Regions from separate parts of the Homo sapiens genome. Here region 2 is linked to region 1. The links come from fine-mapping of genetic effects on gene expression. Tissue or cell type: thyroid. Region 1 holds a variant in brackets; the other region holds the start of a gene. All regions are shown on one strand. Distances are between the middles of the regions.

The links. PIP is the estimated chance that this variant, and not a neighbour inherited with it, causes the effect.
Region 2: NKX2-1-AS1 starts here. The variant in region 1 is fine-mapped to the expression of NKX2-1-AS1 in thyroid (GTEx, PIP 0.95).

What each region holds. Positions count from the first base shown.
Region 1 is chr14:36,552,469-36,555,309 of GRCh38, reverse strand. The region is part of intron 1 of LOC105370453 (a long non-coding RNA gene); the gene reads right to left. Among named protein-coding and RNA genes, the nearest start is that of NKX2-8, 29 kb to the left of the region's middle. The variant T/C (reference allele first, on the strand shown) is at 1,699.
Region 2 is chr14:36,518,078-36,520,726 of GRCh38, reverse strand. NKX2-1-AS1 (NKX2-1 antisense RNA 1) reads right to left here and starts at 1,449. Exons shown (of 2, transcript NR_103710.1): 1 at 1,048-1,449. It overlaps NKX2-1 (NK2 homeobox 1), which reads left to right and starts at 495. Exons shown (of 3, transcript NM_001079668.3): 1 at 495-674; 2 at 1,357-1,742. The coding sequence starts at 598. SFTA3 (surfactant associated 3) reads left to right here and starts at 1,171. Exons shown (of 5, transcript NR_161365.1): 1 at 1,171-1,259. RefSeq lists enhancers at 1-79, 80-1,079, 2,238-2,649.

The DNA of each region.
Region 1 (2,841 bases):
TTTATTTATTTACCCCATATTCAGCCTTCTGTGAATTACAGACATGTTAAGCCATGGACTACCTGCAAGTGAACAAGGATTTGGCCTACTTACTGACGGATGAATGCTAACTGCAAGAGAAACTCCAGGTGTAAAAATATTTTCATCCAGAGGTTGAGAAAAGCTGGAATCTGAAAACTGAAAATAAGCTCATCTTTTTCTTCAAAATAATTAAAAATCTTACTTGTTCCATGAGAGTGTATTGAATATAGAATATAGTCTATGTCACGTTTTTATGAAAAGAGTGATGTCCATTTCAAGGAATGATGTTTTACAGAGAGGAATAATTGAGGGATCTGCCTAAGGAGGCTTTTGTTTTTGTTTTTGGAGTGACCACAAAATGAGAGTAAGTCTATAACTGAGGTCTTTGGAATAAAGCTACAGGGTTATTTTGAAATATTCTCACTGCAGTGATATACTACTGGTAACTTATTAGCAATAAAGAATGGAATTGGTACTATCCCTTAAGATAAAAGGGAAAATAATATTTATACTAAAAATAGCGATTATCTTCTAATGTGGTCTAAACTGCCAGCCAATTGTGTTGACCACTGCCATTTTGGAGCAACACAATTCTGTGACTTTAGAGCACGTCTTGACATGAGGCAGAAGCCTCCCACATGCTCTAGCATACTGGAACCTCTTGGATGGGTCAGAGATTAGTTTTACTTACAAGGAGCACACACAACAGTCCTGCTGCACTGTGGGTATGGGTTCAAGTGTTTGAGGTCTTAGAGAACATCTAATTGCCCACTTATTTCATGCAGGAGCAAATGCAGGCCCAGAGAAGTCCAACAACATTCTCTAGAGCTCTCAGTTCGTTAGGCGTAGAGTTGAGGATGGCATTAAGGCCTTCTGATTTTTTTTAAACCATATCTCTTTCTTAAAATTTGCCAGCCCTGATTTTCTCAATAAGAGAAGAATTGAAATTATATCTATGAATTATTAAAATATAGTGATACAACGTGCTGGTTGTGAGGGAAAAATAAGCTGAATATGATCACAAAGAACATTGTCATCATCCACCCAGGATACCACCTGGATAAAGGGAGGATTCAGTTACAGTACAGGAGAGATACTGCCTCTTTGTCCTTTTAACACTGTGATCCCGAAATGCTATTTCTACATTTGTGAGTTAACAGAACTTAGTGTAACATATCCACTTGAACTTTTTGCAGTGGTGGAAATGTTAGATATCCGTATTAGCCAATACTGGAGCCAATAGCCACATGTGGCTTTGAGCATTTAAAATGTGGCTAGGGCAGCCAAAGAACTAAATTTTTAATTTTATTTAATCTTAGCTAATTTACATTTAGATAGCTGCATGGGGCTAGTGGCTATTCTATTGGACCTCACAGATTCAGCATAGCCTGTTGGAAGAGCTATTATAAATTCAGATAATGTCAGTGAGCTAGAGACCTCTGGTGGAGGGGACTGTTACCTGCAAGACGCTGAGCACAACTTTTTTTTTTTTTTTTTTTTTTTTTTTTTTAAGACGCAAACATTTCAAGATTGGTCACACATTTTAATACCAACACCACTGCTTAATGTGACATGCAAATTCTCTAGGCAGTAAGGGATGGAATAACAAAGAATGCAGAGACTAACTATTATATTGATTAATATTTGCTGTGGTGATACCAAGTTTCTGTTACTAGG[T/C]TTAACAGGACCCTAGAAGGATAGTTTAACTAGAAGGATAGCTATATTGTGGTTCTCTGGCACGAGAAATGGAATGTCCCAGGTCCCCAGGCAGATCTAGAAGCATTCTTTGTGATGGGAGATAGTCTCAAGCTGTATCAATTAAGAGGTGATGTAGCTTGGCGGAAGTCTGCACCAAGTTCAAGACAATGGCTGTTTGAGCACGTTGCTAGAAAACAAATGCCAGTGCTGTTTCCACCTCCTCGCCGACACACAACCACATACGGTTGCCTCCATAAAGCTAAGGTAACCTGTTGCTCTTAAGGTAGGTTAAAAAGAGAGATTTGGGGCCTTTTTACCCCTCTTAAGTAGCGCTCCCTACAATGGAGTTCACCGATGTATTGGGTTCCTTTCTGACCCTACTGTTTTCCACATCGCTTGTTATACTCTCCAGGAAATTTGAGGCCTCCTTTTTCCTTCTCTGGTAATTCTTACCTCTTCTCAAATTTATCTTTGCTTGGCTTCAATCCTGCTTCCATGACTGAAAGCTACAAAAGTGCCTAAGACAGAGATTGCTAGCTGGCTTTAATAGTTGTCAAAAGTAATAGAACTAATTTTTAGCTAGCATTTTCTAAATGTAAACTACTTAAAATAATGCTCAATATATGCTGGTTATTATTATTCGTGAGAATTAGAAATATCTTATATAGCCAAGTTCGTCATTTATGGCTTCTGAATTTCTGGCTTATGTAAGTTCCCACGTACATTAAAGGGATCCAAATGTCTTCCTAAAGACCCATGGATGGTTTGGCTACACATTTAGAAAATCAGTGACACTCTATTAAATATGATTGGAATTAATAACTTAAATTGGAAAAGTAGCTAGATATAAAATTTTAAAGAAAATATACTAATCAGCCAGGCATGGTGGCTCTTGCCTGTAAATCCCAGCACTTTGGGCAGCCAAGATGGGAGGATTGCTTGAAGCCAGGAGTTTGAGATCAGCCTGGGCAACATAGTGAGATACTGTCTCTACAAAAATTTTTTTAAAAACTTAGTTGGACATAGTGATGCACACCTGTAGTCCCCAGCTACTTAGGAGGCTGAGGTGGGAGGATCCCTTGAGCCCAGGAGGTTGAGGCTGCTGTGAGGCATGATCGCACC
Region 2 (2,649 bases), 34 kb after region 1:
CAGACAGACGGGCACTCACGCCGCTCCCTGCTCGCGCGCTCCCTGAAGCATCAGAGGGGAAAACAGCGTGGCTCTGGGCTCGGGTGCTGGGGCTGTGATGTCCTCGGAAAGTCAGCTCCAGCCCCAGATCCCCGCGTGTCTGGGAGATGGGCGAGGGTCAGGGACACCAGGTTTGTTCGAGGTGGGGCAACTTCAGTGACGGACCCTCCCGTGAGACCCCTTCCCATCCTCCCAGCTCTGGGGGCCAGTGCTGTGTTTGCTCGGCCGGGGGTGGGGGGGGGGGGGGAAGACCTTGGGGGAGGCGTGTTAGCGGGGGTGGCCCACTGAAAAACCCCTGAGCTGCGGGGGCGGGTTGTGGCTCGGGGATCCGGGACAGCCTCCGGGAGGCAGTCGATCCCCTACTCAGCGCCCCCTCCGCCCGCTCGGATTCTCTCCGGTAGGGGGAAAGGGGGCGGGGAGCAGAGGTGTCCCTCTGACGGCGGCAGAAGAGAGGCAGACAGACTGACAGACACGTAGACCAACAGTGCGGCCCCAGGGTTCGTCCCCAGACTCGCTCGCTCATTTGTTGGCGACTGGGGCTCAGCGCAGCGAAGCCCGATGTGGTCCGGAGGCAGTGGGAAGGCGCGGGGCTGGGAGGCCGCGGCGGGAGGGAGGAGCAGCCCCGGCAGGCTCAGGTGAAACCCCCACCCTGTCCCTCAGCCCCCTCCTCCTAAAGACCTGTCCGTGCCCGGGGAACCCCGACCGAATTGGAAAGTGGTTCCACTTTGTAACTCCGCAAGTTGGTTGCAAAGCAGCATTCACCTTCCTTCCTCTCAACCATCTCTCCTCCTCTGTTACTCCCCCACCCCACCTCCTGCCCTCCCCGCTCTCGGTTCCCTCCTCCTTCCCCTCCCCTCCACCTCCTCCCCGCGCTCCGCTGGTACCCCACAAAAAATGGGGGTGGGGGTGTCCAAGGGAGGGGGGAAATGCTTTGGGTCTCGTCTCTGCCTCTCTCTCTCTCTCTTTGAGACCTAAAAATCCTGACAAGTGAAACTTAAAGGTGTTTACCTTGTCATCAGCATGTAAGCTAATTATCTCGGGCAAGATGTAGGCTTCTATTGTCTTGTTGCTTTAGCGCTTACGCCCCGCCTCTGGTGGCTGCCTAAAACCTGGCGCCGGGCTAAAACAAACGCGAGGCAGCCCCCGAGCCTCCACTCAAGCCAATTAAGGAGGACTCGGTCCACTCCGTTACGTGTACATCCAACAAGATCGGCGTTAAGGTAACACCAGAATATTTGGCAAAGGGAGAAAAAAAAAGCAGCGAGGCTTCGCCTTCCCCCTCTCCCTTTTTTTTCCTCCTCTTCCTTCCTCCTCCAGCCGCCGCCGAATCATGTCGATGAGTCCAAAGCACACGACTCCGTTCTCAGTGTCTGACATCTTGAGTCCCCTGGAGGAAAGCTACAAGAAAGTGGGCATGGAGGGCGGCGGCCTCGGGGCTCCGCTGGCGGCGTACAGGCAGGGCCAGGCGGCACCGCCAACAGCGGCCATGCAGCAGCACGCCGTGGGGCACCACGGCGCCGTCACCGCCGCCTACCACATGACGGCGGCGGGGGTGCCCCAGCTCTCGCACTCCGCCGTGGGGGGCTACTGCAACGGCAACCTGGGCAACATGAGCGAGCTGCCGCCGTACCAGGACACCATGAGGAACAGCGCCTCTGGCCCCGGATGGTACGGCGCCAACCCAGACCCGCGCTTCCCCGCCAGTAAGTGAGGCCGCCCCACTGCGGGGCCGCGGGCTGAGCTCAGGAGGTGCGGCGAGAGCCGTCCAGAAGGCGCGGCGCCGGCAGGCTGCGCGCTGGGCATCAGGGAGGGCGGCCCGGCAGCGGCGCCAGGGACTTGGGTGCGGGAGCTGGGGATGCTTCCCCCTGCTCGGCTGGGGGTCCAAGAACAGGCACTTGGTAGCGCTGGGGTCCTGCGGTCAGATGCGGGTACTCGGCGTCTCCTAGGCGCGGTGGACTGGCAGCTCTGCTCGGCGCAGAAGACCTCGGGGAGCCAAGGGAAGCGACCCCGAGCTCAAGGAGCAGGGGCGAGCAGAGCGCGGAGAGGCTAGACCGGGCCAGGAGGGAGGCTGCCCTGTTGGGAGGCACTCGAGCGCCCGGCCCGGCCCTCTCTCCAGCGGAGTCTGGGCAGGTGGGAGGACTCGCAGTTCCAGAGGGGACTCTAAGGGTCCGAGCAGGTGCCCTCACTGGGGCCTGACAGGAGAGAAGCCAAGAGGCAAAGCGTCTGGGGGCTCCAGCTTTTGGAAGTCAACACCCCCTCTCCTAACCTCTCCAAACTGGGGTCTACCGTAGGACCCCAGCTCCCGGCCTGAGCCCAGTTCGCCGCCTGTGGCCAGCTAATCCTAATGCTCTGACCCGGGCTGGGCACGAAAGGAGCAGAAGCGGCCTTTCCCCCACTGCGTCTTTTGGTTCGAAAGAGGGAACTGAGACTGAGGGAGGGCAGCCAGGGTTGGGGCTGTGAGCGCTCCAGTACAGCCCCCTCGACGGTACGGCCTGGGGCAGGCGCTGGCAGTTCCCCGCGGATGGGCCTCTTGGGCCCCAGCGCTAGGCTGCCTGGGTCAGGAGGGCGCCGTCGGTTGGGGCGGGCCGGGCGGGCCAATGGCGCGGAAAA